Homo sapiens: one gene and its partner. The protein of the gene in region 1 interacts with the protein of each later gene in a biochemical or structural test. Each region holds a gene or a part of one and is shown on either strand. Other genes may lie near its edges. The genes, in order: PRB3 and ALB.

Evidence for each region.
Region 2: the proteins of PRB3 (region 1) and ALB form a complex in vitro, tested with the Homo sapiens proteins (one study listed by BioGRID).

Annotation. Positions count from the first base shown.
Region 1 is NC_000012.12:11,266,639-11,274,220, reverse strand, and holds the start of PRB3 (basic salivary proline-rich protein 3 isoform 2 precursor), read left to right. Parts: upstream 1-4,513; 5' UTR 4,514-4,551; coding exon 4,552-4,615; intron 4,616-5,552; coding exon 5,553-5,588; intron 5,589-6,072; coding exon 6,073-7,028; 3' UTR 7,029-7,045; intron 7,046-7,582. UniProt on the Homo sapiens protein: Acts as a receptor for the Gram-negative bacterium F.nucleatum.
Region 2 is NC_000004.12:73,400,350-73,407,505, forward strand, and holds the start of ALB (albumin preproprotein), read left to right. Parts: upstream 1-3,937; 5' UTR 3,938-3,978; coding exon 3,979-4,057; intron 4,058-4,766; coding exon 4,767-4,824; intron 4,825-6,279; coding exon 6,280-6,412; intron 6,413-7,156. UniProt on the Homo sapiens protein: Binds water, Ca(2+), Na(+), K(+), fatty acids, hormones, bilirubin and drugs. Its main function is the regulation of the colloidal osmotic pressure of blood. Major zinc transporter in plasma, typically binds about 80% of all plasma zinc.

The DNA of each region.
Region 1 (7,582 bases):
AAATATAATATGTGGTATAGGTAGGAATTGGGTCACTGAAACAAACTTGTTTATTGAATATTGTTTAGCGATAATTTTGTATCCAATCATTTTTAAAATGAATGTTCTATCCCTGTCTCACAGCATGGGCTTCCTCGCAGCATGTGGCAGGTTCCATAAAGAACAGTTTGGAATTGCATGGCATTTCTATGATCTAGACTCAAAAGTCATAAAGTATCACTTCTGATATAATCTATTGGTCATGGCAGTAACGAAGTTCTAACGAAGCTCAAGGGGGTAAAAACAGACCTCACCCCTTCAAGAGAGGATGTCAAGGTACCATTGTAAGAAAACATTAGATGAATGATTCTGTCGTGATCAACTTTTAAAAACACAATGTGCCACACATTCCAATTCCCAAGATGAAAAATATGCATACATGTGGATTTCAATATCAATGAAATAAAATAATAATTTGTGGTTTTTAAGCAGAAGAGAAAACGTCTTTTGTAAGAAATAGGTACAGGTTTATCTGTTTAATAAGTGAGTCATTGATTAATCACTTTAATGAAATTCCTCTTAAATGTATCAGCTTACCGACTTGGTACATCATCAGGAAAATACGAGGGTGATATACATTGCTTTGTATTTCTTATGAGATAAGTTGTGATTGTACTTCTCTATGAACTGCTAGGAAGTGTAACTGAAAGGTCAAGAATACACTCTGACATTGAGATAACAGTGGTGAGCTGAGGCTACAGACACTTGACCTTAGGCTGATGACCAATGCCTTCTACAGCCCCAACCACTCAGGATGGTACACCAGCTCTGGGGCCAGGACACAGGCGACATCTTCATGCAGAATATGAAAGCTGTGTAAGCGGTGTACAATTTATCCTTTCTTAGACAACTCTCTGATCAGACTCCCTCTTGGATTTCTAGAATGTTAATTCCATTGTGATTAGAAGGATCAAATTTAGTCAATTTAAAAGGGCATACACAAATTTTGCCAATGCTAATATGCTACCCAAGAAAAATGCATGTAGCATGGATTAAGGAAGTACATACAGGATCTACATTGACAGAGTTTTGTAACTAGGAAAAAAAGGAATTAATTCCCCTGAGTATCTTTATATAAATGCAAGGGGTAAAGCAGAATACTAGAAGACATTTTAAATGTGATTACGATTTCAAACAAACATGTTTACTCAGGAAAATATATTTTTTCTCACCTCAGCTGTTAAAGTCTCAGGAAAATTTAACCTTGAAAATATTCTAAGAGAAACTTGTTTTTCTTCTCTGAATCTCATTTCCTTTCACTTTCTTGTAAAGAAATGAATGAATGAAGACCAAGTAACCAGTGAAGCACAGTAGGCAAGAACTCAGATCTGAGAACTGACTCCCTTCCATTCCACTCACTACCTTTACATGAACCTAGGCACGCACCTAAATCACCTCATCTACAAAATTAAGATAATAATAATAATCACACCTCCCTAATATGATAGTTCTGAAGACTGAATATCATAGTAAATGCTGAAGAAGTGTTTTCTATTATAATCAGCCTTTGCTAGGATAAATGGAAAGAATATAAATATGCTCAAATAATTGTGAAATATATATTTAGAGAGCATCAACATCAAATAAAAATATAAAGATGACCATCACATAATATATATTATGTTATCATATAATATATAGTATAATATAATATAATATAATATAAAGATGACAATTACATCAGTGTAACCGAAGCTTTTAGACAATTCCAAGCAAATCTGAATTCTCACACACAACCGTATTATTAGAATGGCTGGTTTATGCAATGAGCACAGTAAGTTGAGGAAAATTCTGCTTTCTGTTCCGTTCACAGAACTTCCCAGTCTTCAAAAAGAGAGAGATGTGTGGGTGTGAGAGAGCTAATGCTGGGGTAGGAATGTTACCAAGAGCAGCTGAGGATATTAAGCTCTTCAGGAGAGTGCATCGTGGCCTGAACTATCACCTTCTAGTAAAGATTATGCAAGTGGTTTTATTTGGGATGAGTGTTGAAAGTGGAGGCAACTCAATTTGCTAAAGGACAGTGCCTGAAGGGAGTGAGGATTTTTGAACCACTGAACACCTGTTAGTGACTTAGAAAAGGTTGGGAGTTGTTATGAGAGCTGAATTGTGTTTCCTAAAATTTCATATGTTGAAGACTGTTCCTTCAGGGCCTCAGAATATGAACATGGATATTAGAAGGCAAGTGGAGTGCTGAGGGCTGCCACTCACCTCTAGATGCCCAATCTCCTGCTGCAGTCCTGCTCCTCTCTTCCACCCACCCTCACTCACAGACAGTGTCCCTTTCCACATTTCCATCACTTCTGTTTTTGTTTTGTCTGGTTAGTGCATAGCTGATATTTATGCTTTCCTGATACACTTTACTCATTGCTGACATTGGAGAAAGTCAGGGAAAGGGCCTGAGATAAGGGACTTTTAGGGGCATTTCTGTTGTCTTCCTCTACTCTCCTGCCAAGGACAAATCTTTCTTGTATCAGGCCTGCAGCAACCTAAGTTGGCGACAACATCAGGCAATGTTGGCCTGGCCTCTCTGCTGCTCCTTGTTTCTGACATTCCTTTGTTACCTGATGGTCTAACTTAAGACACCTAGGCAGGATTGGTCATCTCCAGTTCCTATGGAGGAGACCAGAGATAGAAATCTCAATAATATAATGGGACCTGCTGGCACAAGCAAGTACTCTCTGCCTAAGATAAAACTCATGAAGACTAGCTAGAACCAGTCCACTTTCCATAGAGCCAGAAATAATTTCCAATTAATAATATATTCCCCTTTCAAGTATGTCTATATTTTTGCCAGGGAAAATATCAATCTTCCTGGTTCCCTTGCAAGGGCAAAGTTATCTGTAGCAAAGCCTTCTGTATTAGGAAGTCTTCCTGTACTATTACCCCCAACTCTTCAGAAGGGCCAGACCAGACCCTCATCTGCACAGTCCAGGATCCACTCATCCACAATGGTCAAGAGGTCTGTCTTTAGGATTTACTGTCACATACCCTCTCTACCTCCATCATACCTCCAGCCAAGCTGTCCTCAAATTAATACCAGCCATGCACAAAATGTGAACAATTACACAAGACACACAGAAGGTCTAAGTGGTAAATGGCAGCTGACTCACTGACTAACCTGTATATTCCATGAACTGATGAGCAGGGATTTACTAGGTATAACAGAAGAATCAGCAGCTAAAAGAAGTGCTAACAATGCAGGACTCTGAGAGGGCTTTTTGGAAACACAACATTTATTGTGAAATTACACAGACAAGAATGAAACAAAGGTGGTGAGAATTATAGCTTATTACTTAGAAGATTAAATAAAGGAAATCTTACCAAATTCCTGGGGAAAAAAGCCAGATATATAAAGAAAATTACACAAAATGAGCTTGACTCAGAAAATAAAATATGAACAAAGAAGTACCAGAAAGAACGTCAGGGAGGAATGCATATCAGAATATTGTAGAAAAAATACTCTTTGTGGAAGAACAATCTGAGAAAACAGGTAACACAAATACTGACTAAACCAAGAAAACCAATACAATGCAATTGAGGCTTTAATGAGGGTATCTGATTACCTTATTTGAATGTAGAATTGTAGCCACTTAATTATCAGAGGTAGGAATTCAATACAATTCTTAAAAGAAATGAAGCAGAGGGTGAATTTTGTAGAATATTCTAGAGAAAGGGAAGAGCATGAAGGAAGTTTTGGCAACATGATATTGCATGGTTCCTGCAAGGAACTATATATTCAGTTTTCTCAGGTCTAGAAATTTCCTCGTGGTTTGTGTGTCCATTTTGCATTCATAACCCCTAAAGATACTTTAAAATACACAATTTTGGCCTTCCTGTGTTTCACAACAAGAAGCCTTTCCTGACTTGAGTGAGATCCACAGAAGCATGAACAATAGCTGTAGCCTGAGTAGGCTGTGAGGCAGCCTTCTGTCATCTGTGTGCCCAGGAGTGTGCTGTCCTCAAACATCTCCCAGATAGCAGAAACTATCTCTATCGCATCAAAAGTTAAGCTAAATGTGATACTCTCTGTACACACACATCACGAGAGATGGAAATAGGCTATAAAAACAGCCAGAGATATTGATCATCATCACCGCTGGCTGTAGCTTCACTGCCCACACACACATACACAGAAATAAATAGCAAAGTTGAAAGTGGACAATAGTCTTACCAAAAAGATTGAAACTCTAATGACGTCTGAAGTTCAATTATGACACCGTGCTGATTGCTTGGACACAGTTCCTTTAAAACCTTTGTTCAAGTCATAGTTGTACCTTTTAGAAATAAGGTACAAACAACATCCAACCCAACCTGTTCCTCTGGGCTAGAGTCCCAGACAGAAATAAGGGATACACCTGACCTGCAGTAAGGAAAGCAGAACCCAGTCTCTGGGGTGGTGAGGCCCACCCAGTGTGGAGCTCAAAGGTGCCACTGTTCTGCTCCTCTTTATAAAGGGAGCTGCCATGGTTCTCCCAGCACAGAGTTGGGAGTGACTCCAGAGCCTCCAGCAAGATGCTACTGATTCTGCTGTCGGTGGCCCTGCTGGCCCTGAGCTCAGCTCAGAGCTTAAATGAAGGTAAGACAGAAGGAGGAGAAGATGTGGTGACTCTGCTTGGGGCTTAGGAGGTGATAGTTGTAATTATGGGGAAGAGAGGAGAATGAAAACACAGATGGGGCTGCAGAGGTTTCATGCCTAGGATCAGGAGACCTGTTGTGCCCTCATTCCACACCAAGGGCTTCTAATTTATTTAATGTACAATGAAAATCCAATAAAGAATTTGTACCAGGGGAATGAGAAGGTAAGATTTGCATTTATAGAGAGATAGAACTGTGCTGTGAAGGATGCAGTGGTGAATGCAAGGCAGATTCAGGAAAGTCCAGCTGTGAAGATCCTAAACTGATCTCAGTAAGTACACAGGGATGATTGTGGCCTTGCTCTACCTAGTGGATCAGCATTGATGATGGAGATAAACACACATTAGAGATACTGCAGAGACAGAACTGGATAAAACACTTGCCTGTGTCTAACTACAGATATAGAAATATCAGATTCAATCATTGTGATTTTTCTTTCCCCTACACACAGTATTTCAATGTGCTGGGAGTGGTATAGGTAAGATTGTATTGAAACAATTACTTCTGGTTACCGAAATTGAGAAAGCTTGTGAATATAAGCAATGTATTTATAGGAGATGGAGGGCATAAGAATACCAAAATATCACATTGAAGTACCTGGCATGTGTAAACTAAATTAGCATTAAGTCTTGAAGGATGCTAGGGAAGAAAAAAAGGGGCTCTTCTATATTGAGTTCATGGCTGTTGCTCTGTGTGGTAACAACCCTGCCTCCCCTTACACCTTCCTCCCCTTCCAGCAGCTTCACAGATGGTAGCTGATGAGCTAACCTAGGGGATGCATGGGGTGTGGTGAGAAGTCCCCTTTCCCTGTAGAACACCTGTGAATCTTGCAAAATTCGAGATGTAACCTTTCCCATCATCCTGTGCTTCTCTTCTAGATGTCAGCCAGGAAGAATCTCCCTCCGTAATATCAGGTAAATCCCAATTCACTCTCAATCTGTTTTAACTATCTTCTTCTGCTTATGAATGGATCAGTTCTCCAGTGTCTTCTCACCAACATTTTCCTTTAGAAATTGATTAATATTAGTCCCCCTAATAATGCAGGCAATCTTCATGCAACCTTGATTTTGGGGACCATGAGCAGGGCCACCAAATTGAATGGCAGAGATGCTTGGCTTAGATGAAAACGGGAGTGGGTTGACTTCCCTCCTGCCAGGAGTGCCTGCTGGGAGATGACAGACAAATGGCCAGTGTCCTTATTCTGACTCCTCCTTAGACTGAGAGCCCCTCAACTGCTTCCTTCTTCTCCAGCATTCCACTCCAGAGTTCTAGAGCTTCACTGAAAATGCAAAGAAATTAGTGTCTGGGTCTTATTTTTGTGCATTTCCCCATTTAGCTGCGTTACTGTAAAAATTTGCGGCAACTATTCAGTGAATGCCGTGTGTCCACCTCCTCCAGGAAAGCCAGAAGGACGACGCCCACAAGGAGGAAACCAGCCCCAACGTACCCCACCTCCTCCAGGAAAGCCAGAAGGACGACCCCCACAAGGAGGCAACCAGTCCCAAGGTCCCCCACCTCGTCCAGGAAAGCCAGAAGGACCACCCCCACAAGGAGGAAACCAGTCCCAAGGTCCCCCACCTCGTCCGGGAAAGCCAGAAGGACAACCCCCACAAGGAGGAAACCAGTCCCAAGGTCCCCCACCTCGTCCGGGAAAGCCAGAAGGACCACCCCCACAAGGAGGAAACCAGTCCCAAGGTCCCCCGCCTCGTCCGGGAAAGCCAGAAGGACCACCCCCACAAGGAGGAAACCAGTCCCAAGGTCCCCCGCCTCGTCCGGGAAAGCCAGAAGGACCACCCCCACAAGGAGGAAACCAGTCCCAAGGTCCCCCGCCTCATCCGGGAAAGCCAGAAGGACCACCCCCACAAGGAGGAAACCAGTCCCAAGGTCCCCCACCTCGTCCGGGAAAGCCAGAAGGACCACCCCCACAAGGAGGAAACCAGTCCCAAGGTCCCCCACCTCGTCCGGGAAAGCCAGAAGGACCACCCCCACAAGGAGGCAACAAACCTCAAGGTCCCCCACCTCGTCCAGGAAAGCCAGAAGGACCACCCCCACAAGGAGGAAACCAGTCCCAAGGTCCCCCACCTCGTCCAGGAAAGCCAGAAGGACCACCTTCACAAGGAGGCAACAAACCTCAAGGTCCCCCACCTCATCCAGGAAAGCCACAAGGACCACCCCCACAAGAAGGTAACAAACCTCAACGTCCCCCTCCTCCAGGAAGGCCACAAGGACCACCCCCACCAGGAGGCAATCCCCAGCAGCCTCTGCCACCTCCCGCTGGAAAGCCCCAGGGACCACCTCCACCTCCTCAAGGGGGCAGACCACACAGACCTCCCCAGGGACAGCCTCCCCAGTAATCAAGGTTCAATGACAGGTATGATTCCAGTTTATTCTTCACCAAGTGCTCTAAGTGTTACAGTTCTCCAACTTTATTGTGCCAATGAATCAACTAAAAACCCATTGACATTGTATTGTCCTAGAACCCATTTCTAAAGATTTGTATTCAGATACTCTGGAATAGGGTAAGAAGACCCTGTATTTCTAACAAACTCTTTAAGGAACTCTGATGTTGAGAAACAACATACCATACAATCTGTCTTAAATTGTGTTGGCAATGAGGAAGTAGTACCATGTCCATTCTTGGTGCTCTGCTTTCGGTCCACAAACTCAGAGATATTGCATTTAAATTTTTCACCTGAGCACTGTTTGCTCATTCCTGCCTCACGCCAGCCTCTCGAGTCCAGTATTCCTGCCAAATGGTCCCTGATCTTTCAGCAGCTAAATGGTGTCTCATTTTTTACATACTTAGTTTTCAGTAAGTACATGATTAAGCTAACAAAAGATATCTAATGGAATGGAAAAATATGAAGTTAATTTTAAAGGCGTAGCTCATCCTACTCACCTTCCTTCC
Region 2 (7,156 bases), on another chromosome or scaffold:
AATTAAACCACACGGAGAAGAACTGAGAAATTTAAAGTAAAAGGTTAGGAAATTCGAATGTATATATATTCCAGAGGCCCAGTGTAACATGAAGAAAGTCAAGGAGAGGGACTCTTTCATCATGGAAGATCTGGGGGCAGAGGGACTTAAAAGGTGGGACAAGCCAAAGATGGTGACCTAGGGTGGTTTTTATGATATAACCTTTTTTCTCCTCATTCCCTATGAAATCTTCAGCCAATTCCATATTTCTCACTAATTCAAGTGAATATCTGGGGGGATGGCTTATGGAGGGAAATAAGGGAGCAATTGTTTGGATTATATTCCAATTTTTTATTTGCATTAGAATACCTATATGTTTATACATTTTTATTTGCATTAGAAATACTTATATAAGTTTATACACTTTCATTCTAACTTTTTTTGAGGGAAATGTATCTCCATAAGTGAATAAGAAGTTAAATTACTGATTATGTTTCAATTGGTTAGTTTGATGCTTAACAGTCTTTCACTTTTCCACTCTTGCATATTTTGTAGAGAGTAATACAAGCTCTTCATGATAGGAAGGATCTGCATATGTTTATTTTATAGTAGAAAAATGGTAAGATTTTCCTGTCCCCAATTTTCTCTCCAAACAAATCCAAATTTCTTGTATTTTGGAATGACTCTGGGTAAAGTGGTTGTTTATAGAAAGTCTCTTATAAAATATTGAGGATATTATTAGATATTATTACATTTCCATGAATATGTTTCCCTTTATCTTTAAGAGAAGAAGAGTCAGAAATATAACCTATCAGAGTGGGAGATGGCATAAAAGCTGGACTAAATGGATTGCTAGATGGAGGGCAAACCTGGTGTGAATGACTCAGTGAGAAGCTTCGGGAGTCCTGAGGGTAGCAGAAGGGTGCGGATTTAAAGTTACTGTTAGAGTGGCTGGAAAATGGGAGACCGGTTCAGAGACATTTTATCTACTTAAAAACTGTGCCTTTTGTATCACGTCAAAGTGAATGCAAAACAAAGAACAAAAGGGTTAAAGGCTCAGGTTTAAATCCCAGGTATATGTACATTTCAATTGAGGTATTTTTTTTTTCTTTTCTAAATGATCAGTACACTTATTCTTTCTAAAGAAAATACTTTTCTTAACTACTCTCTATTTTTAAACTTCTCCCACAAAGATGAGAAAACATTTAAAAATCATTGGGGCTATTTTTCTGTTTACCGAGTAAAGAGAATCTCTAAACCATATTTATAACTCTTACTCTAAATATTTGCATTTACCCTCATGCCAGAGCCCGTTGATGACTGACTAAACAGAGTTTCAAAGTTTGAAGAACAGGAAATTTAGAAATGACTAACAATTATGTAGGTTTATTTCTCTCAGTATAGAATGTTCATATAGAATTAATGCCAGAGGTTTTCAGAGAAAAATGCAGAAATTTTTACTTTGCAAATCCAGAAGATGCAATTGTTCAAGTATTTCTTAAGAAACATTAATTTTAAGTATGCAGATATCATTGAGAATTAAATATTTTAATTTCTAAACTATTAATCTTTTAGTAGGATGCACATATGCAAAATGCCTCATTAGTACTGTAAGAAAAGATTCTTGGCCGGGCGCGGTGGCTCATGACTGTAATCCCAGCACTTTGGGAGGCCGAGGTGGGCGGATGACGAGGTCAGGAGATCGAGACCACCCTGGCACACGGTGAAACCCCGTCTCTACTAAAGATACAAAAAATTAGCCGGGCGTGATGGCGGGCGCCTGTAGTCCCAGCTACTCGGGAGGCTGAGGCAGAAGAATGGCGTGAACTCGGGAGGCGGAGCTTGCAAGTGAGCCGAGATAGTGCCACTGCACTCCAGTCTGGGCGAAAGAGCGAGACTCCATCTCAAAAAAAAAAAAAAAAAAAGAAAAGATTCTTTTAGGTTTCATCAATTTTGTTTTAAAGCTAGGGCTCTTCATTAGATATAGGAAAATCAATTCAAAGTTTCTATTCAGTCATGATGAATTTGAGATTTTTTTAGGTTTCTTTGTATTTAACAATATATTACATTATAATGTTGTGGTGAAAACTAAATGGACTAATATTATTCTTTTCATTTGTTAAATGAAAAAGTATGCACAAAGTATATGTGAGAGTGACAAAGGCCTGAATTTGTCAATTAGTAACAATTGTATTCAACAGTAAGGATTTTATGTTTGGGTAGGCCTTTCCCAGGGACTTCTACAAGGAAAAAGCTAGAGTTGGTTACTGACTTCTAATAAATAATGCCTACAATTTCTAGGAAGTTAAAAGTTGACATAATTTATCCAAGAAAGAATTATTTTCTTAACTTAGAATAGTTTCTTTTTTCTTTTCAGATGTAGGTTTTTCTGGCTTTAGAAAAAATGCTTGTTTTTCTTCAATGGAAAATAGGCACACTTGTTTTATGTCTGTTCATCTGTAGTCAGAAAGACAAGTCTGGTATTTCCTTTCAGGACTCCCTTGAGTCATTAAAAAAAATCTTCCTATCTATCTATGTATCTATCATCCATCTAGCTTTGATTTTTTCCTCTTCTGTGCTTTATTAGTTAATTAGTACCCATTTCTGAAGAAGAAATAACATAAGATTATAGAAAATAATTTCTTTCATTGTAAGACTGAATAGAAAAAATTTTCTTTCATTATAAGACTGAGTAGAAAAAATAATACTTTGTTAGTCTCTGTGCCTCTATGTGCCATGAGGAAATTTGACTACTGGTTTTGACTGACTGAGTTATTTAATTAAGTAAAATAACTGGCTTAGTACTAATTATTGTTCTGTAGTATCAGAGAAAGTTGTTCTTCCTACTGGTTGAGCTCAGTAGTTCTTCATATTCTGAGCAAAAGGGCAGAGGTAGGATAGCTTTTCTGAGGTAGAGATAAGAACCTTGGGTAGGGAAGGAAGATTTATGAAATATTTAAAAAATTATTCTTCCTTCGCTTTGTTTTTAGACATAATGTTAAATTTATTTTGAAATTTAAAGCAACATAAAAGAACATGTGATTTTTCTACTTATTGAAAGAGAGAAAGGAAAAAAATATGAAACAGGGATGGAAAGAATCCTATGCCTGGTGAAGGTCAAGGGTTCTCATAACCTACAGAGAATTTGGGGTCAGCCTGTCCTATTGTATATTATGGCAAAGATAATCATCATCTCATTTGGGTCCATTTTCCTCTCCATCTCTGCTTAACTGAAGATCCCATGAGATATACTCACACTGAATCTAAATAGCCTATCTCAGGGCTTGAATCACATGTGGGCCACAGCAGGAATGGGAACATGGAATTTCTAAGTCCTATCTTACTTGTTATTGTTGCTATGTCTTTTTCTTAGTTTGCATCTGAGGCAACATCAGCTTTTTCAGACAGAATGGCTTTGGAATAGTAAAAAAGACACAGAAGCCCTAAAATATGTATGTATGTATATGTGTGTGTGCATGCGTGAGTACTTGTGTGTAAATTTTTCATTATCTATAGGTAAAAGCACACTTGGAATTAGCAATAGATGCAATTTGGGACTTAACTCTTTCAGTATGTCTTATTTCTAAGCAAAGTATTTAGTTTGGTTAGTAATTACTAAACACTGAGAACTAAATTGCAAACACCAAGAACTAAAATGTTCAAGTGGGAAATTACAGTTAAATACCATGGTAATGAATAAAAGGTACAAATCGTTTAAACTCTTATGTAAAATTTGATAAGATGTTTTACACAACTTTAATACATTGACAAGGTCTTGTGGAGAAAACAGTTCCAGATGGTAAATATACACAAGGGATTTAGTCAAACAATTTTTTGGCAAGAATATTATGAATTTTGTAATCGGTTGGCAGCCAATGAAATACAAAGATGAGTCTAGTTAATAATCTACAATTATTGGTTAAAGAAGTATATTAGTGCTAATTTCCCTCCGTTTGTCCTAGCTTTTCTCTTCTGTCAACCCCACACGCCTTTGGCACAATGAAGTGGGTAACCTTTATTTCCCTTCTTTTTCTCTTTAGCTCGGCTTATTCCAGGGGTGTGTTTCGTCGAGATGCACGTAAGAAATCCATTTTTCTATTGTTCAACTTTTATTCTATTTTCCCAGTAAAATAAAGTTTTAGTAAACTCTGCATCTTTAAAGAATTATTTTGGCATTTATTTCTAAAATGGCATAGTATTTTGTATTTGTGAAGTCTTACAAGGTTATCTTATTAATAAAATTCAAACATCCTAGGTAAAAAAAAAAAAAGGTCAGAATTGTTTAGTGACTGTAATTTTCTTTTGCGCACTAAGGAAAGTGCAAAGTAACTTAGAGTGACTGAAACTTCACAGAATAGGGTTGAAGATTGAATTCATAACTATCCCAAAGACCTATCCATTGCACTATGCTTTATTTAAAAACCACAAAACCTGTGCTGTTGATCTCATAAATAGAACTTGTATTTATATTTATTTTCATTTTAGTCTGTCTTCTTGGTTGCTGTTGATAGACACTAAAAGAGTATTAGATATTATCTAAGTTTGAATATAAGGCTATAAATATTTAATAATTTTTAAAATAGTATTCTTGGTAATTGAATTATTCTTCTGTTTAAAGGCAGAAGAAATAATTGAACATCATCCTGAGTTTTTCTGTAGGAATCAGAGCCCAATATTTTGAAACAAATGCATAATCTAAGTCAAATGGAAAGAAATATAAAAAGTAACATTATTACTTCTTGTTTTCTTCAGTATTTAACAATCCTTTTTTTTCTTCCCTTGCCCAGACAAGAGTGAGGTTGCTCATCGGTTTAAAGATTTGGGAGAAGAAAATTTCAAAGCCTTGTAAGTTAAAATATTGATGAATCAAATTTAATGTTTCTAATAGTGTTGTTTATTATTCTAAAGTGCTTATATTTCCTTGTCATCAGGGTTCAGATTCTAAAACAGTGCTGCCTCGTAGAGTTTTCTGCGTTGAGGAAGATATTCTGTATCTGGGCTATCCAATAAGGTAGTCACTGGTCACATGGCTATTGAGTACTTCAAATATGACAAGTGCAACTGAGAAACAAAAACTTAAATTGTATTTAATTGTAGTTAATTTGAATGTATATAGTCACATGTGGCTAATGGCTACTGTATTGGACAGTACAGCTCTGGAACTTGCTTGGTGGAAAGGACTTTAATATAGGTTTCCTTTGGTGGCTTACCCACTAAATCTTCTTTACATAGCAAGCATTCCTGTGCTTAGTTGGGAATATTTAATTTTTTTTTTTTTTTAAGACAGGGTCTCGCTCTGTCGCCCAGGCTGGAGTGCAGTGGCGCAATCTCGGCTCACTGCAAACTCCGCCTCCCGGGTTCACGCCATTCTCCTGCCTCAGCCTCCCGAGTAGCTGGGACTACAGGCGCCCGCCATCACGCCCGGCTAATCTTTTGTATTTTTAGTAGAGATGGGGTTTCACCGTGTGCCAGGATGGTCTCAATCTCCTGACATCGTGATCTGCCCACCTCGGCCTCCCAAAGTGCTGGGATTACAGGAGTGAGCCACCGCGCCCGGCCTATTTAAATGTTTTTTAATCTAGTAAAAAATGAGAAAATTGTTTTTTTAAAAGTCTACCTAATCCTACAGGCTAATTAAAGACGTGTGTGGGGATCAGGTGCGGTGGTTCACACCTGTAATCCCAGCACTTTGGAAGGCTGATGCAGGAGGATTGCTTGAGCCCAGGAGTTCAAGACCAGCCTGGGCAAGTCTCTTTAAAAAAAACAAAACAAACAAACAAAAAAATTAGGCATGGTGGCACATGCCTGTAGTCCTAGCTACTTAGGAGGCTGACGTAGGAGGATCGTTTGGACCTGAGAGGTCAAGGCTACAGTGAGCCATGATTGTGCCACTGCACTCCAGCCTGGGTGACAGAGTGAGACTCTGTCTCAAAAAAGAAAAAGGAAATCTGTGGGGTTTGTTTTAGTTTTAAGTAATTCTAAGGACTTTAAAAATGCCTAGTCTTGACAATTAGATCTATTTGGCATACAATTTGCTTGCTTAATCTATGTGTGTGCATAGATCTACTGACACACGCATACATATAAACATTAGGGAACTACCATTCTCTTTGCGTAGGAAGCCACATATGCCTATCTAGGCCTCAGATCATACCTGATATGAATAGGCTTTCTGGATAATGGTGAAGAAGATGTATAAAAGATAGAACCTATACCCATACATGATTTGTTCTCTAGCGTAGCAACCTGTTACATATTAAAGTTTTATTATACTACATTTTTCTACATCCTTTGTTTCAGGGTGTTGATTGCCTTTGCTCAGTATCTTCAGCAGTGTCCATTTGAAGATCATGTAAAATTAGTGAATGAAGTAACTGAATTTGCAAAAACATGTGTTGCTGATGAGTCAGCTGAAAATTGTGACAAATCACTTGTAAGTACATTCTAATTGTGGAGATTCTTTCTTCTGTTTGAAGTAATCCCAAGCATTTCAAAGGAATTTTTTTTAAGTTTTCTCAATTATTATTAAGTGTCCTGATTTGTAAGAAACACTAAAAAGTTGCTCATAGACTGATAAGCCATTGTTTCTTTTGTGATAGAGATGCTTTAGCTATGTCCACAGTTTTAAAATCATTTCTTTATTGAGACCAAACACAACAGTCATGGTGTATTTAAATGGCAATTTGTCATTTATAAACACCTCTTTTTAAAATTTGAGGTTTGGTTTCTTTTTGTAGAGGCTAATAGGGATATGATAGCATGTATTTATTTATTTATTTATCTTATTTTATTATAGTAAGAACCCTTAACATGAGATCTACCCTGTTATATTTTTAAGTGTACAATCCATTATTGTTAACTACGGGTACACTGTTGTATAGCTTACTCATCTTGCTGTATTAAAACTTTGTGCCCATTGATTAGTAACCCCTCGTTTCGTCCTCCCCCAGCCACTGGCAACCAGCATTATACTCTTTGATTCTATGAGTTTGACTACTTTAGCTACCTTATATAAGTGGTATTATGTACTGTTTATCTTTTTATGACTGACTTATTTCCCTTAGCATAGTGCATTCAAAGTCCAACCATGTTGTTGCCTATTGCAGAATTTCCTTCTTTTCAAGGCTGAATAATATTCCAGTGCATGTGTGTACCACATTTTCTTTATCCATTAATT